Homo sapiens: one gene and its partners. The protein of the gene in region 5 purifies or fractionates together with the protein of the main gene of each other region. This does not show direct contact. Each region holds a gene or a part of one and is shown on either strand. Other genes may lie near its edges. The genes, in order: SLC25A17, CDS2, INTS2, INTS4, VSIG1, XPO7 and RRP1.

The links.
Region 1: the proteins of VSIG1 (region 5) and SLC25A17 purify together in Homo sapiens (co-immunoprecipitation; 3 studies listed by BioGRID and IntAct, with this or other methods). This does not show direct contact.
Region 2: the proteins of VSIG1 (region 5) and CDS2 purify together in Homo sapiens (co-immunoprecipitation; 2 studies listed by BioGRID and IntAct, with this or other methods). This does not show direct contact.
Region 3: the proteins of VSIG1 (region 5) and INTS2 purify together in Homo sapiens (co-immunoprecipitation; 3 studies listed by BioGRID and IntAct, with this or other methods). This does not show direct contact.
Region 4: the proteins of VSIG1 (region 5) and INTS4 purify together in Homo sapiens (co-immunoprecipitation; 3 studies listed by BioGRID and IntAct, with this or other methods). This does not show direct contact.
Region 6: the proteins of VSIG1 (region 5) and XPO7 purify together in Homo sapiens (co-immunoprecipitation; 3 studies listed by BioGRID and IntAct, with this or other methods). This does not show direct contact.
Region 7: the proteins of VSIG1 (region 5) and RRP1 purify together in Homo sapiens (co-immunoprecipitation; 3 studies listed by BioGRID and IntAct, with this or other methods). This does not show direct contact.

What each region holds. Positions count from the first base shown.
Region 1 is NC_000022.11:40,812,847-40,816,346, reverse strand, and holds part of SLC25A17 (peroxisomal membrane protein PMP34), read left to right. Parts: intron 1-2,388; exon of another isoform or gene 2,389-2,464; intron 2,465-3,500.
Region 2 is NC_000020.11:5,125,831-5,129,807, forward strand, and holds the start of CDS2 (phosphatidate cytidylyltransferase 2), read left to right. Parts: upstream 1-1,177; 5' UTR 1,178-1,262; coding exon 1,263-1,319; intron 1,320-3,977. UniProt on the Homo sapiens protein: Catalyzes the conversion of phosphatidic acid (PA) to CDP-diacylglycerol (CDP-DAG), an essential intermediate in the synthesis of phosphatidylglycerol, cardiolipin and phosphatidylinositol.
Region 3 is NC_000017.11:61,889,983-61,893,482, reverse strand, and holds part of INTS2 (integrator complex subunit 2), read left to right. Parts: intron 1-1,793; coding exon 1,794-1,970; intron 1,971-3,500. UniProt on the Homo sapiens protein: Component of the integrator complex, a multiprotein complex that terminates RNA polymerase II (Pol II) transcription in the promoter-proximal region of genes.
Region 4 is NC_000011.10:77,921,669-77,925,168, reverse strand, and holds part of INTS4 (integrator complex subunit 4), read left to right. Parts: intron 1-276; coding exon 277-419; intron 420-501; coding exon of another isoform or gene 502-523; exon of another isoform or gene 524-1,718; intron 1,719-2,697; coding exon 2,698-2,813; intron 2,814-3,500. UniProt on the Homo sapiens protein: Component of the integrator complex, a multiprotein complex that terminates RNA polymerase II (Pol II) transcription in the promoter-proximal region of genes.
Region 5 is NC_000023.11:108,048,065-108,051,564, forward strand, and holds part of VSIG1 (V-set and immunoglobulin domain-containing protein 1 isoform 2 precursor), read left to right. Parts: intron 1-3,500.
Region 6 is NC_000008.11:21,982,162-21,985,661, forward strand, and holds part of XPO7 (exportin-7), read left to right. Parts: intron 1-478; coding exon 479-651; intron 652-2,484; coding exon 2,485-2,678; intron 2,679-3,424; coding exon 3,425-3,500.
Region 7 is NC_000021.9:43,788,283-43,792,376, forward strand, and holds the start of RRP1 (ribosomal RNA processing protein 1 homolog A), read left to right. Parts: upstream 1-1,294; 5' UTR 1,295-1,347; coding exon 1,348-1,480; intron 1,481-3,067; coding exon 3,068-3,150; intron 3,151-4,094. UniProt on the Homo sapiens protein: Plays a critical role in the generation of 28S rRNA.

The DNA of each region.
Region 1 (3,500 bases), on a different chromosome or scaffold from region 5:
CATAGTTTTCTGACTCCTGCTATAGAGAGAGTGACTGGCAATAGTGGTAATATATTTCTATTTAATCTACAAAGATACTTCTTTTTTTCACTTGTTGCCTATTTTTCTCTTTTTTTCTTTTTCTTTCTTTCTTTCTTTTTTTTTTTTTGAGATGGAGTTTCGCTCTTGTTGCCCAGGCTGGAGTGCATGGAGTGCAGTGATGCAATCTCGGCCCACCACAACCTCCGCCTCCTGGGTTCAAGCGATTCTCCTGCCTCAGCCTCTCGCCGAGTGGCTGGGTTTACAGGCATGTGCCACCACGCCTGGCTAATTTTGTATTTTCAGTAGAGACGGGGTTTCTCCATGTTGGTCAGCCTGGTCTTGAGCTCCCGCCCTCAGGTGATCCGCCTGCCTTGGCCTCCCAAAGTGCTGGGATTACAGGCGTGAGCCACTGCGCCTGGCCTGGAATTACTTTTCTAACTTTGTTTATGCCTGAATCAAAAACGATTAATGAAATTATATCGTCATACATAGTATTGTATAACTTAATTTTTTAAGAAGCAAATATGGCATAATAGCTGAAAAAAAAGGTTCTGTAGTAAAGCTTAACTATGAATGCCATCATCAATCGAACTATAAAACAGGGACAATAACAATGCCTCACTTAACTGGGTTCTTGTGGGAAGTAAATGTGATTATATTTGTGGAGCATCTAGCATAATGGAACGTTGTAGTAAGACCATAATTATTCATTTCTGTCTCAAGTATATTCTTGCAAATACAGCACTTATACCTAGTTTTAGAAATTTAAGGGAATTGAAATGTTCTCTTGCCTCATGGCCATCTCCACCCATTCCCTTCACTTGTTGCAGATGATCTTACCTTTTACTCTCTAGATAAAATAGAACCTACTTGGGATGAGTTTTTTCAGTTTTTTCCAATTACAGTTGTACTCGTGTTTTCTACATTCTGCTGGTCTCAGAGGAAAAATAGACATATTCAGTGTCTGCTACCTTCAATCTTTGTCCTCCCCTCCAGCCCATGGCCAGTTTTCTTCCAGGACTTTGCTCCAGTAATTTTCATCTCTTTCCTATAGCTTTAACCTAGTATCTGCTTCTGTTCAGCCCTCAAACATGGTCAGGTCTGTCCCATCAGAAAACTATACCAATCTGATCTGGAATCTGGTAGCTTCTTCAGCCTCTGCCTGTTCTCTTTCCCTTTGTGCTAAGCTTATTTAAAGAATATTCTGGGCCGGGTGTGGTGGCTCACACCTGTAATCCCAGCACTTTGGGAGGCTGAGGCGGGCAGATCACGAGGTCAGGAGATCGAGACCATCCTGACTAACACGGTGAAACCCCATCTCTACTAAAAATACAAAATATTAGCCGGGCATGGAGGCAGGCGCCTGTAGTCCCAGCTACTCGGGAGGCTGAGGCAGGAGAACGGCATGAACCCGGGAGGTGGAGCTTGCAGTGAGCCAAGATTGCGCCACTGCACTCCAGCCTGGACGACAGAGCAAGACTCCGTCTCAAAAACAAAAAAAACCAAAACAAAACAAAACAACAACAACAACAACAATATATATATATATATATATATATATATATATATATTCTGCACGTACTGCCTTTCCTCATCCTACTTTGACCACTGGAACTGTTCTTCCAAAGGTCAACTCTGACTTCCTAACAGCTTAATCTACTATTGTGAATGGTTTAAGGTCATGGATAACCAGGTACACACACATTTGTGTCTTTTCACAATGTCAGACTTTTATTGTGTTATTTCAGTTATAAAAGACAAGTTACATGGAGTTCTCAAGGAGGCAATTTTTATTAGTACTTCTCATTCACTAGGTAGTCAGTCAATATTGTAAATCATATATAATAGTATACCTAATTAATACATAAATGATGTAGATTAAACATTCTGCAACAAAGTAACATTGAACATCAAGAGAAAAGGGTGAGGAAAAAGGGTTACCTAACCAGTCCGGGGAGAGTGATATAGACAAGTATCCTGGTTTCATCATGGCAGTGTGTTGGTCTTGTAAGAAAGAATCCTTGATGTGGGCAGAGCCTTTGGACACAGATATCAGGCTTTTATAACAAGTGACAGCAAGACAGTGTCTGTTAAGACCATTTTGAGTTTTTTAAGTCCTGTTCTTTTTATGGTCACAGAGTCTTCTGGTAAGGACTGATAGTGGAAGAGCATGCTTGGTTGTGTCTTTATCTGGAAAAACATCTGGTCCCTGTTGTCAAAGTGCTTTTTGAAATGAAAGATAGGAGTCTTTTTCTAAGATGGAGTTACTTATGTCAAGAGTGCTCTATACATCTACTGACTGTTTTTGCATTCTTAATTGATTCCAGTTCTTTGTAAGTATTCTATACTGTTGACCCTTCTACCTTTCTGAAGCTCCTTCTGAAAGAGCAGTTGGTGTTTATTTTTTACTAAATAGCAATTGCTCTTTTGGAAGGAACTTGAGAAGACATTACTCCTTTTAGGGCCCTAAAATTAACAGTGGTTTCTACTACTAACAGATACTATAGCTATAAAGGACATGTAGAAACCAACAATTGTTGAGTGCCACCTGTGTGCCTGGTATGATGCTAGGTGCCAACCATAATTTTTTGTTTTTGTTTTTGAAACTCAGTCTCGCTCTGTCGCCCAGGCTGGAGTGCAGTGGCGTGATCTCGGCTCACTGCAAGCTCCGCCTCCTGGGTTCACGCCATTCTCCTGCCTCAGCCTTCCGAGTAGCTGGGACTACAGGTGTCTGCCACCACACCCGGCTAATCTTTTTGTATTTTTAATAGAGAGGGTATTTTTTTTTTATACAGAGTCTCGCTCTGTCACCCAGGCTGGAGTGCGGTGGCACGATCTCGGCTTACTGCAACCTCTGCCTCCCAGGTTCAAGTGATTCTCCTGCCACATCCTCCAGAGTACCTGGGACTACAGGTGTGTGCCACCACTCCTGGCTCATTTTTGTATTTTTAGTAGAGATGAGGTCTCACCGTGTTGGCCAGGCTGGTCTCGAACTCCTGACCTCAAGTGATCCACCCACCTCAGCCTCCCAAAGTGCTGGGATTGCAGGTGTGAGCCACCATGCCCAGCTACTTTCCATAATTTGATTCTAACTTCTCATAGCAACCTTGACAAATACCGGTCTCAAAATTACAAATGAGGAAATTGAGACATAGAGATTTGAAGTTACTTATGTAATATATACTATACTTGGGACGTAAACCTATATTTTATCCCTAAACACTCGAGAGTGTCATCCATGAGGCCATTTGTGTAACTTGCCTATCTGTCTGTGTATGTATGAGTTAGCTTGATTGTTATGTCAGGGAAAAGACTTACATTAACTCTGATGAGGTGAATAACATTTTTAAATATGAAAGCCATTGTAAGTGGCTTTTAATCTTTAGAATTTTATTAGCTCAAACCACAGAAAACATCTTAGGTGGTTTTTAAAAATTTTTTTAAATTTTTATTTGTTTTGAGACTAAGTCTCACTGTGT
Region 2 (3,977 bases), on a different chromosome or scaffold from region 5:
AAGTACTTACAATGGATGTGTCAAAGACATAGAGGATGCACAGTAAACAAAGTAGACAGCACTTCTGTCCCAAAAAAGGTCTTTCCATAGTCCAGAAGACAAATTTGAAAAACTGAGGAAGGGCCAGGCTCGGTGGCTCACGCCTGTAATCCCAGCACTTTGGAAGGCGGAGGCGGACGGATCACCTGAGGTCAGGAGTTCGAGACCAGCCTGACCAATATGGTGAAACCCCGTCTCTACTAAAAATACAAAAGTTAGCCGGGCGTGGTGGCGCGCACCTTGGAATTGTTTGCGCCCGGGAGGCAGAGGTTGCAGTGAGTCGAGATCATGCCACTGCACTCCAGCCTGGGCGACAGAGCGAGACTCCGTCACAAAACAAACAAACAAACGAACAAACAAACAAACCACTGAGGAAGATCTTAACTGTAAAATTCAAATCATACCCACTTCCAAGCCATGTGTGGATTAAACGAGATAAGCCAACTAAAGCGATTACTCAGCTCAGTGCCTAGTATACAATTAGTGCTTAACAAGTACTAGCGACCGCTTGGCAAAGCAAAGCAGACTGAAGCGTGGGTTTCATTTCTCATCATGTGATAAGTGATAAAATGCTCTTAACCAGGTCGGCTCACCTGGCCTTTCCATTCGACCTAAATAACGTCTACTTACTTGCGTAAGGGAAGAGCTCTGGCCCAGGTCAGCAAGCATTTGTCAGGCTAGAGCCTCCGGGTGGCGCTTCTCGCCCTCAGTAACCGGTTACCTCCAGAACCAGGGCGCCAGCTCCGGCCATCCGCGGTTAAGCGGGAGCTCCCATTGGCTAATCGCACACTGAAACGCACGCCTTTTCCCGCCCCTGACGCTGCCGTCCAATGCGCGCCTCTCGACTCTGCTCCGCCCCGCCCCGCCCCCGTCGCCCTGCCTCCCTGGCGTATTTGCGCCATTGGTGGATATTCCGGACCGTGATGGTGGCGCTGCGCGTGCGCACTCGCTCCGAGCCCTGCTCCCGGGAGAGGGAGCTCTCGGGTCGGGGCTAGGGAAGGCTGACCCCGCTCGGCCCGGGTGAAAGGGCGGTGACGGCACTGGGTGGGGCCGAGCTCCAGGGCTGGCTGCTGGGCTGCTAAGGGAACTGTGAGCCGCTCAGAGCCGCGCGCCTCCCGGGCGGGGCGGGGCCGGCCGTGGGAGTCCGCGCGTGCCCGCGCCGAGCTGCCTGCTCCGGCGGCTTCGCTGCTAGCTCGCGGCGACGTCGGGCCGATTTTCCCAGGATGACAGAGCTGAGGCAGAGGGTGGCCCATGAGCCGGTTGCGCCACCCGAGGACAAGGTAGCGGCAGCGTCGGGGTGGGCGCGGCCGGGACAGCGGCGCATCCGGGAGGCCTGCGGGGGACGCGCGCAGAGGGGTCGTCTTGTTCTCTGACCCTTTGTCGCAGCCGACGGCGGCCCCGGGCCCGGGTAGCGCGAAGGGCCCTCGGGTGCCCGGCCTTCGCGGCGCGCGCGTCAGGGGTCGGCGGGTCGGGGTCCCGGCTCAGGGTCTGACTGAAGTGGCTCCCCCGGGGCGCAGGAAGGAGCTTCTCGGGAGTGGCGCACGGCCTCCTGCCTCGCTGGGCTGGCTGCGGGGACTCCCCTCTCCCCCAACTCCGTGAGGCCTTCCTGGAGGTGAAGATATGCAGAGCCTTCTTAGGGAGGCGGCTCCTCTGAGCGCAACTTAGGCTCTCCGTTCCCTTTTACAATGTTATTATTTTGGGGGGTGGGGGAATCAGGACAAGGCCATAGCATTTGCCTCCTGGGAGATGTAAATCCCTTCTTGGGCATGAAATCATCGGCTTTGAGCAAAGGGGTGTTACCCAGTGAGCCAGTCCGTCATCAGCAGGTGTTGGAGGGCGTCCTCCCGGTTGATGGGTTGTTTCCTGCACCGTGTGGGCTCTGGTGGGTAGGGGAGGAGAGTAGGAAGGAGGCCATCTTGGCGGGGACAGTGGCGGGGGTGACGGGTGGGGGAGTGGACTCCTTTGGGTGAAGTGAAAGATCTGTGTAGGGGAGTTAAGGAAGGTAGGGATTGGTTTTATTACTGTGGAGGTTGAATGGCAGTATAGGACTTTGTAGCAGTAGTTGTGCTTTCCGAGATAGCAGTGATCAGGAGCCCTGTGTTTGGGAAACTGATCAGACAGTGATGTGTAGAAGGGACTGAGGGAGCCTGGACCAGACTGAGGGAGCCTGGTTCACTCGGGATTGCCCATGAGTGACCTGTAGATGTTTTCTTTGGCCCACATATTGCCTTAAAAATCAGAAAGTTTCTCCTAACAATCTAAATTTCTTGCCTGTCTTAGATAATTGGAGGGTCCACCATCACTTTGTCACCTGCTCAATGGTTGGCTGGAGCTGAGGATCATCGGTTCCCACCAATCCCTGTTGCCTTACACCAGGCTCACGGCTTCCCCTAATGCAGCCTGTAACTTTTTGATGACTGGACGCAACGGACATTAGGGAGACACCCAGAAGGAAGAAAGCACAAGATTTGGTGACAGGATGTCAACAGAGCAGTTACACTAGGAGGAATGTTTTTGGTGAAAGATAATGAGATCATGGGTTTTTTTTAAACAACTTTCGTGTTATTGCAGTTGACAGTGGACTATCCAAAGAGAACTGTTCCTACCGATTTTTAGAACATATATTTTGGCCAGGCACAGTGCTGCTCGCCTGTAATCCTAGCTTCTAGGGAGGCTGAGGCAGGAGGATCGCTTGAGCCCAGGAGTTTGAGACCCTGTCTCAAAAAACAAAAACAAAAACATATTTTGGAGAACATTTAGGGCTGGGGCTGAGGATTTAGCAGTCGCTTGCAGAGACAAGATACTTTGAAGTCTCTAATTTTTCATTTGGCTATCCTGGTTCAGCCTGAAAGAATTCTGACTTACCTTGTACTACTAGTTGGTGAGTATGCAGATGTTTGGAGGCTCTGTAGCTCTGTTTAAGGGTGAGATCATGCTTGATGTTAGTGGGACTTTGTGGACCTAGAAGGTGTGAGGAGAGAGAGAAGAAAGAAGGCATGATAGCTGGTGGGCCATGTTTTTGAAAAGCTAACTATGTACAATAATTAGAATGTCAAAAAACAACCTTGGGATTATGAGATGCAACATAAAGATTCTACCCTCCTTCCCGGACTCGTTGGATCCATCCCCCAGAGATAAAGTGCGAGTTGAACCGTCTTACTTTCACATCCTGTACTTTAGACTGGGAGGACCTGAGGAGCTGTCCAGCTAGAGGTGCACTTATATCACTTATACAGTGACAGAATGCCTGGGGTCATGAGGTCCACTTGTGGCGTGTTGTTTCCTAAAAGACAGCTGCTATGCACTCTGTTAAAAGCCTGATGTTCATTACCGAGAACAAGACAATCAGTTCCTCACCCCATTATTCAGAACTTCTCAATTGTCACTGAATTGTCATGTATGGGATTTTATTATTATTATTTTTTTAGACGGAGTCTCTCTCTGTCGCCCAGGCTGGAGTGCAGTGGCACGATCTCAGCTCACTGCAACCTCTGCCTCCCAGGTTCAAGCTAGTCTCCTGCCTCAGCCTCCTGAGTAGCTGGGACTATAGGCATCCGCCACCACGCTCGGCTAATTTTTTTTTTTTTTTTTGAGAGGGAGTTTCGCTCTTTTGCCCAGGCTGGAGTGCAATGGCATGATGTTGGCTCATCGCAACCTCTACCTCCCAGGTTCAAGCAATTCTCCTGCCTCAGCCGCCCGAGTAGCTGGGACTGCAGGCGTGTGCTACCATGCCCGGCTAATGTTGTATTTTTAGTAGAGGCACGGCTTCTCAATGTTGGTCAGGCTGGCCTCAAACTCCCAACCTTAGGTGATCCTCCCGCCTCAGCTTCCCAAAGTGCTGGGATTATAGGCATGAGCCACTGTACCTGGCGTTTTTTTTTTTGTATTTTTAGTAGAGATGGGGTTTCACTGTATTGGCCAGGCTGGTCTTGAACTCC
Region 3 (3,500 bases), on a different chromosome or scaffold from region 5:
CTCAAGTGATATGCCTGTCTCAACCGACCAAAGTGCTGGGATTACAGGCGTGAGCCACTGTGCCTGGCCTACATTTATATTTCAAAGAACAACCTAAATTAATGCTTTCTCCCCAGTTGTATTTCAGTTTGTAGGCATTTATTGTGGGTTTTGTGTAGGAAATGTGTGGTATTAAGCTAAGTTACTAGTCATTTATATAAGTATAGTAATTAGGGATAGTAATTATAATTATATAATTATACAGTAATTTCAGATTTTTAAAACAATGTAAGATTTTCAAAATGCATAATACTCCATTTAAATTCTCAATAGTGGCACATGGCTATTTTATTAAAACTTAGAAACTGCCATTTTCTAATTTTTTTTTTTAATTTTAAAGACAGGGTCTCACTCTGTCGCCCAGGCTGTCATAGCTCACTGTAACCTCAAACTCCTGGGCTCAAGCAGTCCTCCTGCCACAGCCTCCTAAGTAGCTGGAACTACAGGTGCGAGCCACCACTCCTGGCTTTTTTTTTTTTTTTTTTTTTTTGAGATGGAGTCTCACTTTGTTGCCCAAGCTGGAGTGCAGTGGTGCTATCTCAGCTCACTGCAACCTCCGCCTCCTGGGTTCAAGTGATTCCCCTGCTTCCGCCTCCTGAGTAGCTGGTATTACAGGCTCCTGCCACCATGCCTGGCTAATTTTTTTTTTTTTTTAATTTTTAGTAGAGACAGGGTTTCACCATGTTGGCCAGGCTGGTCTCAAACTCCTGACCTCACGTGATCCACCCACCTCGGCCTCCCAAAGTGCTGGGATTACAGGCATGAACCACCGTGCCTGGCCTCATACCTGGCTTTAAAAAGTGTTTTTTTGTAGAGACAGGGTCTCGCTATTTTGCCCAGGCTGGTCTGGTCTTGAACTCCTGGTCTCAAGCAATTCTCCTACTTCGGCCTCCCGAAGTGTTGGGATTACAGGCATGAGCCACTGCAGTGGGCCTGGTTTTGTTTTACAAATTGGGGAAGCTGCCATGACTAGTATTTGTTGATTTGTCATAAGGACACCTCACACCTAACTTAGAATTTTGACATGTTTTGATTTGTCTTAGTTGGCTATATCTAACAAGTTAAAAGGCCCTCTAAAGAGAAGGTATTAAGACCCAGGAGGTAAAGTAGACTGAAACTTTTTCAGATATTTACAAAGAACAGTGAATAATATATGCATGATATATCACTTTTTAATTGTTGCTTGTTTTTTGTGATTTAGTGAGATTATTTTCCAGCCAGATTGCATCATCTGCTTTATATTTTTAGCAAGTAAAATAGCTAAGAATTAAGAGTTCACATGCACCCCCAACATTTTACATGTCCTCCATCCAATGATAGTTAAGTGATAAGTCTCCTGTAAGTGCTTTTCAGAGACATTTTCTTAGTCTATCTGAGGGTTTGCTGTGAAGGACCTATCTCTCTCTCTCCAAATTCCTATCTAACGTGAGCTCTCCCATGACGACACACATGGTGCTCTAAATACAGATATGGTAGGGACTTAAAATGTTTTTCCCACTACTTAAAAACTAATAGATTAAACCGAAAGGCAAGCTTCTAGTGGAGGGTGCACCTAAGATGATACAGATATAATGGTAGTTCATATTTTAAAATCAAAGGCAGTTATGATACTAGATAATATATTTGGAACTGCCAAAAGTTAATAGTGAGTTTTACTGATTCATAATTCATGTAAAACTGTATGTACTTTTATAATTTTGCTTGGTTTTTCTTTTTGCCACAATTAATTCAGTGTCTATAACATTCTTTCTTAGGATTGGATTTATAGACAGCTGTGTGAAACCTCTACTCCACTTCATCCTCAATTACTTCCTTTGATTGATGTGTACATAAATTCTATACTTACTCCTGCGTCGAAATCTAATCCAGAAGCCACAAATCAGCCAGTCACAGAACAGGAGATACTCAATATTTTCCAAGGAGTCATTGGGGTAAAATAGTGGTTCTTTTATATCTATTAACTTATTTTTCTTTTAGTTCTTCTTACTTAACCCATATTTTTATTTTCCTATCAGAGGACTTCTAGGTAGTTCTGAATTTAAAATTAGATTAAATTTCCTTAGATCACCTCTAAAAATTAAAAGAATGGTATTAGTTCCAAGTAGTTTGCTAAACAGGCACTTTTTTTTTTGAGATGGAGTTTTACTCTTGTTGCCTAGGCTGGAGTGCAGTGGCGCGATCTCAGCTCACTGCAACCTCCTCCTCCCTGCAACCTCTGTCTGCCGGGTTCAAGTGATTCTCCTGCCTCAGTCTCTCGAGTAGCTAGGATTGCAGGCGCCTGCCACAACGCCTGGCTAATGTTTTGTATTTTTAGTAGAGACAGGGTTTCACCATGTTGGCCAGGCTGATCTCGAACTCCTGACCTCAGGTGATCTACCTGCCTCAGCCTCCCAAAGTGCTGGGATTACAGGTGTGAGTCACTGTGCCTGGCCTTTTTTTTTTTTTTTTTTTTTTTTTTTTGAGACTGGAGTCTTGCTGTGACACCCAGGCTGGAGTGCAATGGGCAGTCTCGGCTCACTACAACCTCCGCTTCCTGGGTTCAAGCGATTCTCCTGCTTCAGCCTCCTGAGTAGGCTGGTCTCAAACTCCTGACCTCAAGTGATCCTCCTGCCTTGGCCTCCCAAAGTGCTGGGATTACAGGTGTGAGCCACTGCGCCTGGCCAGTAATTTTTTTTTTTTTAAGCTTCACTTTAAAGTCTAATGGGTTCCCTGGAGATTGTGTATTTGATCAAGTACTGTGTGGGATATCAAGATATTCAGCATAGGTTTGTTTAGCATCCTGGGAATCTAAGATACACCTACATTCATTTAGGGGGATTTTTTTTTTTTTTTTTGAGACAGAGTCTCACTCTGTTGCCCCGACCGGAGTGCAGTGACACGATCTCAGCTTACTGCAAACTCTGCCTCCTGGGTTCAAGTGATTCTCATGCCTCAGCCTCTCGAGTAGCAGGGATTACAGGCACCTGCCACCACGCCTGGCTAATTTTTATATTTTTAGTAGAGACAGGGTTTTACTATGTTGGCCAGCTGGTCTCCAACTCGTGACCTCAGGTGATCTGCCTGCCTCAGCCTCCCAAAGTGCTGGGATTACAGGTATGAGCCACTGCTCCTGGCTCATTCAGGGAAAATTTGATGAAAGTATTTTTTCCCCAGTTTGTTAGAAGGGAAAAACAGTTGCATTTTTCACAAATATATTTAAGTATACAATGTCTTATTTAGGAGTTACTTTTTTCATGGTAATTTCATATAATACTTGGGACTCCTGTCTTTCAGAAGCAGCCTGATGGGTTTGCTATTGAGTAGTAGCTGAAGTCTTTTCTTTGTCTTATCTTAAAGACCACTTAAGCATGTTGCCTTTCATCTCTCATGCCATCTCAGATTTCATGTTGTTTTTTTGAGTTTAATACACACACAGCAACATTTCTCCTGTTTTACCTGAGTTAGGAGCAGCAATGCTGAAT
Region 4 (3,500 bases), on a different chromosome or scaffold from region 5:
CTAGTTGCAAAAAGGCTCTTGTACCTTCAGCATCATGATTGAGTTCCAGATAGGATGGAAAAGGAAGGTTAAAGAACAAAGGGGATAAAGCTACTGCCTCTGGTCCTTTATCAATAAAATGAAAGATATTTCAGGAATTTCAGCTAAAAAACTTCCACATACTTTGTTACATGGCCACCCTAGATGGGAAGGTGGCTGGGTAGAAGGGGATGGTAGATAGAGGCTGAGTCTGCTAACCAACAGTAACTACTGTTATTATTACTTTTTTTTTAAAAGGATTCATCCAGAGATATTCGAGAGGCTCTTCATGAACTCTTATGCTGTACTAATGTTTCAACCAAAGAAGGGATTCATCTTGCATTGGTGGAGCTGCTGAAAAATTTAACCAAGTACCCTACTGATAGGGACTCCATATGGAAGTAATGACTTTTTTGCCCATTTACTCACTGAGTCCCATAATGTGGTAAATGTATAATGCTGACATTTGTTCCGTCCTTATAGATTGAGGATAGTACGGCCCTGAATTTTGCCTTTACTTTAGAAACCTGATTCAACTTAACCGAACTCTCAGGAATCTGATTCCTAAGCTGAGTATCACATTTTAGATTACTTACTAATTTGTGCATCTATCCACCTAGCAAATATTATGTGCCTGCTGTGTGCTGACTATGCACCAACCCTTGTGGTAGCTGTTACAAGTATAGAAATAAATTAATTAGATTTCCTCTTTCTCCTATATAGTGTTTTGTTTTGTTACTTTTTTTTTTTGAGACGGAGTCTCGCTCTGTCACTCTGACTAGAATGCAGTGGCGTGATCTCAGCTCACTGCAACTTCTGCCTCCTGGGTTCAAGCGATTCTCCTGCCTCAGCCTCTCGAGTAACTGGGATTATAGGTTGCATGCCACCATACCCCAACTAATTTTTGTTTTTTTTTTTAGTAGAGATGGGGTTTTACCATGTTGGTTAGGCTGGTCTTGAACTCCTGACCTCAGGTGATCCCCCTGCCCCGGCCTCCCAAAGTGCTGGGATTACAGGCATGAGCCACTGTGCCTGGCCTTATTATTTTTTATTCATTAAGTTCTGGTTTAGAAGGTGCACTAAATTGGCTGGGTGCAGTGGCTCACGCCTATAATCCCAGCACTTTGGGAGGCTGGGGCGGGTGGATCACCTGAGGTCAGGAGTTCAAGACCACCCTGGCCAACATGGTGAAACCTCATCTCTACTAAAAATGCAAAAATCTGCCGGGCCTAGTGGCACACGCCTGTAATCCCAGATACTTGGGAGGCGAAGGCAGGAGAATTGCTTGAACCCTGGAAGCAGAGGTTGCAGTGAGCCGAGATTGTGCCACTGCATGCCAGCCTGGGCAGCAGAGCAAGACTCAGTCTCAAAAAAAAAAAAAAAACCATAAACAATAATAAAAATATATAATTACCTTGCTTTTATAGTTCCTTATAGTTTATAAAGGGCCCTCATGTAGTTATAATAGCTAACATTGAGTTCTTACTATGTGACAGACACTTTGCTAAGTACTTTATGTTAGTTATTTAATGCGTATAGCAACTCTATGAAGTAATGACTTTTAATCTCATTTTGTAGATGAAAAAATTTACTTGCATAAGGCTACTTAGTTTCAGACAGATCTGTGATTTCAGGACTTCACCCAGGATATCAATCAGAATGTTTTTGCCCACAAATAAAAAAGACAATCTGATTAAAAATATCTTAGCCAATAAGTCTGTTTTTTCATAACAAGTGGTCAGAAGGTTGGTTTCAGGATTCGTCATTCAACAGGTTACCAGGGCTCTCTTTGGTTTCTCTGCAGTTCTCTTGGCTTTTTTTTTTTTTTTTTTTTTGAGACAGAGTCTCTCTTTATCGCCAGGGTGGAGTGCATTGGCATAATATTGGCTCACTGAACCTCCGCCTTCCAGGTTCAAGTGATTCTCCTGCCTCAGCCTCCCGAGTAGCTGGGACTACAGGCCCGTGCCACCATGCCCAGCTAATTTTTGTATTTTTAGCAGAGATGGGGTTTCACCATGTTGGCCAGGATGGTCTTGATCTCTTGACCTCCTGATCCAGCCACTTCGGCCTCGCAAAGTGTTGGGATTATAGGCGTGAGCCACCACACCCGGCCGGCTTTCTTCTCATAGTTGTAAGATGGCTGCCTCATAAGATAATATCTCAAGACAGAAAGGAAGGGTCATTCCCTTTCATGCATTGCTCTTTTGATTTGCAAAAACATCCCTGAGAAGCTCCCCAGCCAGCATACTCTCGTGCTCCATTGTCTAGAACTGGCTTACTTGCCCACCAGCAAACCAGTCACTGGAAAATGGGAATGGGATTGCCATGATGGGTTTAGACCAATAGTGGTTCAGCTCTTGGGCTGGACCTGCCTTTTCCGAGCACTTTGCTGCCTGCCTGATACCTGAGTAAAATCAGGGCTCTCTCAGGAAGAAAGATGGGGGAAATGGCTCTTGGTTAAATAACCAGTTCTTTTATCTTTATAATAACCAGTTTTTTTAGATGAATTAACCGAGTTCCAGAATAACTGGGTGACTTATCTGAAGTCATAGAGTTAGCAAAAGTATATGGTTGAGAATTTCCAATTCCAGTTCAGGTTTTCTGATTCCAGTTCCTAGTACTTTTCAAAGGACTAACTTTACTAATTTGTTGATGTGCATTCTTATTTGTTTGTTTCAGGTGCTTGAAGTTTCTGGGAAGTCGGCATCCAACCCTGGTGCTTCCCTTGGTGCCAGAGCTTCTGAGCACCCACCCATTTTTTGACACAGCTGAACCAGACATGGATGATCCAGCTTGTATCCTCTGTGCTTAGGATGGGCCCTGATGTGTTGGCAGGCAGCTTTGGCATCTCCTTCTGCAGTATAGCTAGGGTAGTCTGAATTTTCTTTTCTTTGCTTTTCTTTCTTTTTTTTTTTTTTTTTTGAAGACAGAGTCTCATTCTGTCACCCAGGCTGGAGTGCAGTGGCCTGATCTCGGCTCACTGAAACCTCTGCCTCCCGGGTTCAAACAATTCTCCTGCCTCAGTCTCCTGAGTAGCTGGGATTATAGGCGCCCGCTACCACACCCAGCTAATTTTTGTATTTTTAGTAGAGATGAGGTATCACCATGTTGGCTAGGCTGGTCTCAAATTCCTAACCTGTTGCTTGGGCTGGAGTGCAGTGGCACCACCCCAGCTCACTGCAACCTCCGCCTCCCGGATTCAAATGATTCTCCTGGCTCAGCCTCCCAAGTAGCTGGGATTACAGGTGCCTGCCACCACTCCCGGCTAATTTTTGTATTTTTAGTAGAGACGGGGTTTTACCTTGTTGCCCAGGCTGGTCTCAAACTCCTGACCTCAAGTGATCCACCCACCTCAGCCTCCCAAAGTGTTGGGATTACAGGCGTGAGCCACCATGCCTGTCCAGTATGTACTTTGATAGGCAATATAGTTGCTTACTTTATAGGCAAAATCATTTCCATTTTTTGTATTCTTGGCAGTCTCT
Region 5 (3,500 bases):
ACGATCTCGGCCCACCGCAACTTCCGCCTTCCGGGTTCAAGTGATTCTACTGCCTCAGCCTCCTGAGTAGCTGGGATTACAGGCATGCACCACCACGCCCGGCTAATTTTGTATTTTTGGTAGAGACAGGGTTTCTCCATGTTGGTCAGGCTGGTCTTGAACTCCCAACCTCAGGCGACCCGCCCACCTCAGCCTCCCAAAGTGTTGGGATTACAGGCGTGAGCCACTGCGCCCAGCCTAAAAATATTTTTAAATGTTGATTAAGTGTGTACATCTTGGATTATTTTTCTTTAATAATAAGCACTTTTTTAATTATTATTATACTTTAAGTTTTAGGATACATGTGCACAACGTGCAGGTAAGCACTGGTTTTTAAAAGAGATTACACATATTTCAACCACATATGCATTTTTGTTTTGTTTTTAAATTTGGTCAAGTCAGAGAGGGACATTGCGTTCTTGGGTTTTGTTTAAATCAGATACTAATCTTTACTTTGCTATTTATTCACAGTCCTATTGATGTAGAGATTTTTCTGACTTATTCAATTTTTAAATAATTTCTCAACTTAGAATGACTTAATCCAAAGGAAGGGAACTTTTTTCCCTGACACTCAGAGAATCACCTCCACTTTAGGACTAAGTTTGCACTGCCCATTGTCTACATGTGGCTATTGAAATTTAAATCACTTCAGATTAATGAAAATTATAAAGTCAGTTCCTCAGTTTCACTAGCCACATTTCAAGTGTTTGATAATTCTATTTGGGCTACTGAACTGGATGGCGCAGAGATAGAACATTTCCATCATCACAGGAAGTTCTGTTGGACAGCACTGTAAGGGTGAGCTCAGAGGTTTTAAGTAATGTGCACTAATTGAATGATGTGACATTTTAAAAAGGCTCATCTGGAAATATATAACTTTTAGCTCTGAAGCATATCATCACTATATCATGGTTGGACAATGTCTGAAAAACATCTTTTCTTCAGAATTTAATTGGTTATGGTGCTAAGAATTGGGAATCTGGGCAATAAAATGGCCTGGAGGTTTTGCTTTGCCAACTGTTACTTATTTACATGACAATGTGTAGTACCTCAAAAAATATTGTCTCACTTTAAAATTTGAAATTACCATCCTAATTCCAAGGTGATATTATTAAACTTTTGCAGATTTCTAATTAGTTACACATTTATATATCTTCTATATTTAAAATGTTAGAAATGTTTGAATCAGATTTATATTTTCCAAATCCTTGATTTTCATTCACCTCTATTCTCATCTGTGCTATAAATGGCTTCCTGCTGCACTGAGGGATGGCAGAGATTGTGTCTGTCATGTTCATTCTTGTTTCCCCAGTGTTCAGCACTGTTTGTGGCACAAAATGGGTGCTCAATTGATATTTGTTGCTAGGCTCCACAGCCTCTTCCATGGCTTGACTTGTGTGAGTACTGTGTGTACTCTGCCATCAAACACTTTTTCCAAGAGTGGTCTTCAAAGGGGGTTTGTGGGGTTTTGTTTATTGTTTTGCCTTATCTGTTCATAAATTCTCACCCTTAACCAATCTCGTAACAGATACTGGGTCCCAAACTAGAGAACAAAAATTATGGCCAAATAATATCTCTAAAATCTCTGTTTTTAGGGAATAAGTCTGGGAACTTTAAGGGCTACCAAAACCCCAGTTTTATCCTTTTTATTTTGGACACTTTAAAGACATTTGGAAGTCATCATTTAAGCACGGCCAGAGATGTGGCTAACTTCCAGGAGAAATGAAATGGGCTCTTTGAGGGTGGGAGGGAACCATCTTTCTCCAGTGAAGTTTTTGTTGGAAAGATTAGCTGCTTTCTGAAAGCCAATTTCCTTTTTGGAGGAGGCATTATGGAAACCAGGAAAGCATGGGGAGGAGAATATTGGGAAGAGGGAAACTGTATGGAGTTAAAAAGTGCTGCATTTTTGTTTGCATTCAGGCACTTTTCTTAATTTATCAGTGCATTGGTTGCCATGTAAACAGCCAGCTTCTGGCAGGAAAGCAGCTGGACCAGGTGACCTGGCTGTGACAGAGAACACAGATATTGAATCCATGAAACCAAGAGTAATCAGTACAACGATTTTTTTTCTTTTACTTTTTAAAAGTGTTTGTCAATCCTTTAAGTTCTTTTTGTCTGACTGCTGTCATTAAGTAAGAAAAATATGAAATAAATAAGTCTTTGGGTATGCAAAATTGGGAAGATGGACAGGAATTAGTCCCTCTATGCAATTTCCTCTGAATCTTTCATAATTTCTGTATCCTCATCCCTTCACCCTCAACCCTCCAACACCCTCTGTTACCCTGCAGGCAACTAGGACAGCATAGAGAGCGTCTCTTGAACTTGACTTTCTCTTCCAGTGCTTGCCTGCCAATCCCGTGACCCATCCTGGAGAACTTTTATAGTCTTCGACAATGCAATGCATAGCAACCAGTTAATAAGATAAGACAGTGACTGTATAGTGCTCCCCAAAGTGCCATCACCTAAAATAGCCCTTTGGAAAGTGCTCATATAGAACTGAGAATTTTAGTGTAGTGGCAGGCTGGATTTGGGTAGGGTGCCCTTCGGTGGGCCTCCAAATCCTATGGGGAGCTTAATTACTTCATCTTTCTGTAAGGCCAACAGTTCTCAAAATTTGTGGTCTCAGGACAATTTTACACTCTTAAAAACTGAGGGAGATTTCTGGTCTGGACATGTAGTACAGACCTGTTTTTCATTGTTCCTCCCTGCTAAGCACAAGTATAAACCCTGGAAATAATGCAAGAGACAACCAGGGTAGAACTCTGGAAGGTTGTAAGGAGAAGGCAAACTGGTTTGAGACCCAGGGAAAAACAAAGAGCAAGGGTATCCTATGTTTCCCACCCAGCAGAAGAAAGAAACCTAGTCCTGGCCATTCCTGATACCCAACTGAACAACAGAGGGCAGCCCAGGTAAGCTTACTCCTCCCTCAGAGTCCCTCTGACAACATCAGGTAGGCCCAACACCACAGGTAAGGGGGGATCTTCAGAAACCCCACCAACAACAGTGGACAAAAGAAGCATTTGCCTTCTCCCCAGGCCTGAGATGTCCCACTTTCACCTAGAGATATCGAGGTGGGAGGGTAGAACAGACACGAGGCATAAAGTGATGGCAAGCGGCCCAGTCTGGGAAGGCTCTGTCTCAGTGGGTGTATGACTGTCCTCTCCTACCCATAGAGACACCAACAGTGCAGGGCGCCAGTAGAAGTGTCCCACCATACCTACCCCAACTGAGAGGCACCTGGAAGCCTGACCTAGGGAAACCTTTCTGCTCCTTCAGGCGATATGATCTGGGACAAATGTCAGCCTCAGTGATATCCGATAAACCAAACAGAGCAAAACAATACTGAAAATTAAACTGCTGTTAGAACAACAGACCACAAAAGTAAGCCAACACCTGCTTGCATGTGAAGCATAAATAATGTGACTGACTGCAAAAATAAAAAATGTAAATATGAGTTTCCT
Region 6 (3,500 bases), on a different chromosome or scaffold from region 5:
ACAGAAGAGTAAAAAGAGAGTTGATGCCCTCTCTTTCTTAGTCATGTAATATAGAACAATGGGTCTCAAATTTTATGGCTTGTATCACAGTCATCTAGGGGACTGATGAAAAAATATAGATTCTTGAGTCTTATCCCCATAATTTCTGGTTCAGTAGGTCCAGGGTAGAGCCTTGGTGTTTCTAACAAGTTCTTCAGGTGATTGTCATGCATACTAATGGTTGAGACCCACTTACATATGGCTTTCCTTATGGTAAGGCTTACACAGCCAGCATAGAGTAGCCCTTCTCATTAGATGCTTAATCTTGAAAATACTAATAAACACATTAAACTAGATGCCATACACAGAACAAAGCCCACAAAAGTCTATCCTCTTTTTTTAAAAAAAAGAAAAAAGTCTTTATCTTCTGTGTCAGTGGCATGGGACTAACACGTACAGAAATGAAAAATATGCCTTCTGCTTTTCTACTTTTCTTTAGCACTGGGAATTTGCTCCAAATAGTGTGCACTATCTTCTGAGCCTGTGGCAGCGGCTGGCAGCCTCTGTGCCGTATGTCAAAGCCACAGAGCCCCACATGCTGGAAACTTACACTCCTGAGGTCACCAAAGCCTACATCACATCCCGGTTGGAATCTGTGCACATCATACTGAGGTAAGGAAACTTAGCCTCATTCATTCCCGCACCAGTGGCCTGTTGTCACACTTCCTAGAGATCAGACACCCCATTGGCAAAGAGGTACTCGAAGCGTGTCTCATTGGAGCCACTACTGTTCATGGTTCTTCTTCCTTGTCAGCAGAGTAGCATGAGAGCATAAAGCCTGATAGAATAGTCTTGTCTCTTGAACATTTATATTCTATTCATATTCCCCCTTTTCACTGTCCATAGCAATATCTTTGAATAGAGTATATCCATATAATGTTTGTCCTTGCCGCTGTTTTTCTTTCAATGTGAGAAACATTTATAAGATATAGATGATAAGAATTATGTGTAACTTATAGGTGCTTAATGTGAACTCCTAAAGAAATAAGTGGATAAAGATTACACAATCTAGTTATCAATTCTAATTCCAGAGCTAGAACACATAAGAATTCTAAGCCACTGATCACTGATTGCTTTACATTCATACATGGTTTCTGTCTACATTGACTTAACTGAACCAAAATCCCGTAGCTAAAGAAATGTCAAGCCCTTTCAAAAATTACCTATATTAAATGAAGTTATAGCCCTGTTTAGGTAGCTTTCTTGTTTTCACTGGCTGTTTGTCAAGAGAATTTACTTGGAGTCTAAGGGTCTGGGGCCTTTTTAAGTTGGATTCTTAATTTGCTTAGCCCCAAGTGCATTGAATAGTCATGAGTTATAGTCTTAACTGTTGATGACTTGAATCAGTTCAAAATCTGAGTATTCATGAAGTTCACCAGCAAGCCTTCTTCTGTCACCTCCATAGCTTCCACTCCTGAGGATTCGGCTGGCTTCAGTGAGGCATTGTTGGGGAGTGGTTACATGTTTGTAGGCTCTGGGGCCGGATAGCCAGTTAGTAGCTCTGTACTCTTGGGCAAGTTGCTCCATTTCTGTATTTGTAAAATTCAAATAATAATAGGCCTGCCTCATAAGGTTCTTACAAGGATTAAATTAATATGACCTGGCACAGTGTGTAGCACATGGTAAGCACACAGCTAGTTTTAGTGCTGCTGCTCCTGCTGCTGCTGCTGCTGCCATTATCATATTGCAGTGTAACAACAGAAGAGCTCCTCATTGGACAAGATGTTAAAATCTAGGAGCTGGCAGATAAGGCAAGACCTAGTACAGGGCCACAATGCCTTGTCTGCAATTCCAAAGTCAAAGATGTGACAAAAGAAATTTCCTCATCAGTTTGGCATTAGAATTCACTTGTTACAAAACCGGACGGGAGTTGGTATGAGACCATTTGTAGTTTTTTTAAAATCCTACTTAGTATGACCATTTATAATATTCATAAGTTTTGCTACAGGAACGTTGAGTTTGATGTGCCACAAAGCCCATCAAGGGTTTTATATGATATGGTAGAAGCATCATACTGCCTTCCTCCAATTTGAACAGTTCTGAATTCCAAGACACACCTGGCCACAATGGCCTCCCACACAGGACTGTGTACTTATCCTACAGTTTACTATAGTCAAGAACAAGCGAAAGACTAAGAGTCAAGAGGTCAGACAGTTGAGAAGGGCAGGACTTTGAGGTTTAAGGCAGAAAAACATTAAGAGTTGAGAATTCAGATTGTAAGATTTGACACCAACAAGCAGAATATACCTAAGGGAGACTGATGCTAGGGCGAAGACATTGGCCTTCTGCCTCATTAAACATTCTTCCTTGGTTAAAAGTAATGTCGGGATGTAGACCTCTACAGTCAGAAATGGTGGCTAAGTGAAGAAGTCAGAGAGCTGCTATATTGGGCAAATCAGTAGTCATATTTTAAGAGAGCTGCCTTCCTTCTTCCCTTGGGAATAGAGATGGCCTGGAAGATCCCCTGGAGGATACGGGGCTGGTCCAGCAGCAGTTGGACCAGCTGTCCACCATTGGGCGTTGTGAATATGAGAAGACGTGTGCACTCCTCGTGCAGTTGTTTGACCAGTCGGCCCAGTCGTACCAGGAGCTGCTACAGAGCGCCAGCGCAAGCCCAATGGACATTGCAGTGCAGGAGGGTGAGTGTGCAGCGTGCTGGGAACTCTAGACCTGTGAGGAGATGTTGTCTAGTACCCCTTCGCTCATTGCCACCTCTTTCCTACCTCCCTGCAAAAGGATTCTTTCATCATCTGTTGTCTCCATATGCACAAGAATCTTTATGAATGAATAAATCCCTCAAGGGACTAGGGAAGAAGAACTGAAATCACATCTGCAGTGGGATTTTGTTTTAAGAGATGAGGTCTCGCTATGTTGCCACGTGGGCCTTGTACTTCTTGGCTCAAGTGATCCTCCTGCCTCAGCCTCCCGAAGTAGCTGGGACTACAGGCATGTGCCACCACACCTGGCTCCTGTCTGCTTTTTAATGCCCCACAGCACAGCTGGGACCAGGCCAAGAGGTTTATGACTGCTAAATCAAGGGCCAGGGGAAACAGGGAGATAAGTACAGATAGTAACCTGGGCTTCCTCTTTTTACCGGGCCTGGCTGGTGTTTGTAACATGGCACTGTGCCCAGCTTGGGTGTTTTTAACTCTAAGGAAATACTACACTAAAAATAATGGCCTTGTCTGATACAGGAACATTGGTTACCTAACGAATTTCCCTCTTAGCATTGCCCTTACCAAAGCAGAGAAGTAGCCATTCTCTGTAAGAAAAGTAAGACTTCATGGTTTCACCACAGTGTTCTTAAGATTAAGGAAGTTCAGAGTGAGGAATGTCTTCAAGAAACTATCACTGGAGGTGACACTGGGTCTGTCTCCTGCTGCAGGAAGGCTGACATGGCTGGTTTACATTATTGGAGCAGTGATCGGTGGCCGGGTTTCTTTTGCCAGCACTGATGAGCA
Region 7 (4,094 bases), on a different chromosome or scaffold from region 5:
GTAGACGCCACACTTGTATTTTTTTGAGACGGAGTCTCACTCTGTCACCCAGGCTGGGGTGCAGTGGCGCGATCTCGGCTCACTGCAAGCTCCGCCTCCGGGGTTCACGCCATTCTCCTGCCTCAGCCTCCTGAGTAGCTGGGACTACAGGCGCCCGCCACCACGCTCAGCTAATTTTTTGTGTTTTTAGTAGAGACGGGGTTTCACCGTGTTAGCCAGGATGGTCTCGATCTCCTGACCTCATGATCCGCCCGCCTCGGCCTCCCAAAGTGCTGGGATTACAGGCGTGAGCCACCGCGCCCGGCCAACGCCACAACTGTTAACAGTGTGCCATAGTTGCTTATCTGCATACACATATGTGCGTGTAATGATTTACTTTTTTGCAGAATGAATTACAGACATCATGACAGGTCACCTTTACCAAAGAGTTCTGCAGTTATTTCTAAAAATAAAGAATATTTTTCTACTTCAGGGTATGTCAAACTGTGGCCCTAGGCCAAATGCAGCCTCCCCGTTTTTTTTTTTGTTGTTGTTTTTTGAGACAGAGTCTCACTCTGTCGCCCAGGCTGGAGTGCAGCGGCGCAATCTCGACTCACTGCAACCTCCGCCTCCCGGATTCAAGCAATTCTCCTGCCTCAGCCTCCTGAGTAGCTGGGATTACAAGCGCCCGCCACTACGCCTGGCTAATTTTTGTATTTTTAGTAGAGACAGGGTTTCACCATGTTGGTCAGGCTGGTCTCAAACTCCTGACCTCGTGATCCACCCGCCTCAGCCTCCCAAAGTGCTGGAATTACAGGCGTGAGCCACCGCGCCCGGCACACCCCTGGTTTTAAAAATAAAGTTTCGAGCCGAGAGTGGTGGCGCCCGTGGTCCCAGCTCCTCGGGAGGCTGAGGCTGGGGGATCCCTGGAGCCCGCGAGGCAAAGGCTGCAGTGAGCCGAGATCGCGCCTTGCACTCCAGCGTGGGTAACAGAGCGAGACCCTGTCTCAGGAAAAAAATACAAGTGGGGTTATAAATAAAATGAGATTAAAAAACAACAGATCTTTGCCTCAGAATCCCGACCCACCGCAGCCCCAGCGAGGCGCAGGCGCAGGCGCAGGCGCGCGCTCGCTGGTTCCGCCCATGCGCACAGGCAGGGAGCGCGCGCCCCCTCTGTAGCCTTCGGCCTCCGGGGGCTGCAGTTGCGCGGCTCGGCCACTGCGCGGCGGTGGCGTGCGCCTGGGCGGTGTCGCGGGCTGTGACGTCACGCCACGCGCCGGGGCCAGGAGGAGGCGGGCGCAGGAGGCGCGTGCTCAGTGTGCTGGGTACCAGGCGACTCCGGGACAGGGGGTCTCGGCCGTCGGCGTCATGGTTTCGCGCGTGCAGCTCCCGCCTGAGATCCAGCTGGCTCAGCGCCTGGCGGGGAATGAGCAGGTGACCCGGGACCGGGCGGTGAGGAAGCTCCGGAAATACATCGTCGCCAGGACTCAGCGGGCCGCAGGTTGGCGGGGGTGTGGGCGGCTGGCGTCTCGGGGGCCGGCTGGGCTGGTGCGGGTGTGGGCGGCGGCGGCCGGAGCTGGGGGCCCTCCGAGCCCTGTGGAACCTCCACGTGGCCGGGCCGGGCAGGCGGGGTCCACTGGCCTGTTCCCGCTGTTACCGGCCCACGGCCCCCGCCGCCGCTTTCCCTCGTGGTGCGGTGACTCTGGTCCCTCTGCGAGAACGCTCCTCCCCAGCCCCGTAACCCCTTTCCTAGCTCAGGCGTCCCCTCCCTCCAGTAGACCATGTACTCCTGCTGCCCTGCTGTTTGGGCACCCAGTATTTTTCCCTCATGGCAGCATTTCCCACTGTTTGCAGTTTTCTGTTTTGCGTTAATTATTGGATTGTTTTCCGATTTCCACTCGAGAGTACCTCTCTGAGGGCCGAGAATCTACTTCTTGTTCATGGTACCAGGTGGTTCTCCGAGCGTGGTCCCCCATCAGCAGTAGCATCCCCTGGACATTTGTTAGAAATACACGTTCTATGCCGGGCGCAGTGGCCCAAGCCTGTAATCCCAGCTACTTGGCACGTCGATGTGGGAGGATCACAAAGGCCCAGGAGTCCAGCCTGGGCAACATAGCAAGACTCCATTTCCATCGCAAAAGAAAAGAAAGAAATGCAAGTTCTAGGATCCCAGCCCTACTAAATCAGGACTGGCATCTGCTTTATGAAGCTGTTCAAGTGCTTCTGCTCCCCACACTCAGCCTGAGAACCACTGCTGCAGGAACAGGTTGCCAGACACATAGGACTTCAGTGAATGTCAACTGAGTAATGTTTTAAATTAAAATTTTTTGTTATTTTTCTGAGTGAGACAGACCTCACTGTCATCCGTGGTGGAGGAGTGCATTGGCACGATTACAGCTCACTGCAGCCTCTACCTCCCAGGCTCAAGTGAGCCTCCCATCTCAGCCTCCCCAATAGCTGGGACTACTGGCACCGTGCGGCCAGGCCAGCTAAGTTTTGTATTTTTTGTACAAATTGGGGTCTTCCTATGTTGCCCAGACTGGTCTTGAACTCCTGGCCTCAAGTGATCCTGCCTCAGCACTCAATTCCAAAGTGCTGGGAGTACAGGCGTGAGCCACCGCACCTGGCCTCAGTAATTTCTGTTTCTCTCGTAGTCTGAATGCCTGAGTTCACTTTCTTCTTTTAGTATTTGAGATATATTACAGGAGAGTGCAGAAGCCCTCAGTATAATGCTGGATGAATTATCACCAACAGATTAACCTTGTGGCCACTGTCCAGCTTAGGAAACCGTCAAGGTTCGCAATTTTGAATTTCCAAAATGGAGTATGGTGCCTGATACCTTGTAGATCTCAGTCGGTTTTACTGTGTGCGTGAAGTAGCAGTTACCTGGAGTAGCCGCATAGCCACAGGCGCGGCAGGTTCTGGGTTAGAAGGATTGTTTGAAGGGGAGGGCCAGATTCTGCCCCCCAGTTGCCTTTACCGTAAGTGGGACTTTGGTCTCATTCAGGCAGTCACGTTTCTGTGGCTTCCTTTCTGGCACTCGAAGGTGTGGGATTCATTTGGTCCAACCGTTGCTGTTTTGATGCAGGTGGTTTTACGCACGACGAGCTGCTGAAGGTGTGGAAAGGACTGTTTTATTGCATGTGGATGCAGGACAAGCCACTCCTCCAGGTGAGTGGGGGGAGCAGCAGAGCAGGTACAGAAGCAGCGGGGGAGGATGGATGGGCATCTGGTCAACCCAGTTTTTCTTTTTTTTTTAAGTCGGAGTTTCGCTCTTGTTGCCCAGGCTGGAGTGCAGTGGCTCAATCTCGGCTTACTGCAACCTCAGCCTTCTGGTTTCAAGCAATTTTCCTGCCTCAGCCTCCCAAGTAGCTGGGAGTACAGGTACCTGCCACCATGCCTGGCTAATTTTTTGTATTTTTAGTAGAGACAGAGTTTCATCATGTTGGTCAGGCTGGTCTCGAACTCCTGAGCTCAAGTGATCCTCCCATCTCGGCCTCCCAAAGTGCTGGGATTACAGGCATGAGCCACCGCGCCCGGCCTGGTCAACCCAGTTTTAATATGGCCAGAGACCGTGGGGAGGTCGTATAGCCTTGACGCTTGGTTCGGCACGGCTGGTGGGCCTGGGCCTTTGTTAGGTGAGTCTTACACTTGCTGAGGTGTTGATGTGATTGACTGAGCCGTGCACTGCAGCAGCACTGGCATGGGTGAAAACTGGGTTTTGTGTTTGTCCTGGGTTGCAAACAAGTGCTGAAATAGTGGAAACCACGGGGCGGAATTCAAGTCTCCTGAGACAAGGACGTCTCCTGCTAGCCTTTTCCAAACATTGTTTCTCAAATTGTGAATTTTGTGCTCTCCTTCAAAATCTCCTGGGTGGTGAGGGTACTTAGTTAAGTTCAGGTTCCTGGGCCATATTCCATGCCCACTGAATTATCAAGGGGAGGCTGTGAAATGTCCCTTAGCAAGTATTCTGGGCGATGGCTGGCACGGTGATGTAGGCAGATAGCCAGTGATCTATGGGGTCTCGCAGCCCTCTTCCTCCTGATGGTTAGGGGGCTGTGAGTCCCAAGGCTCCCTTCCGCTCTCCCACGTCCCTCTTTAACCGTGACTCTGTG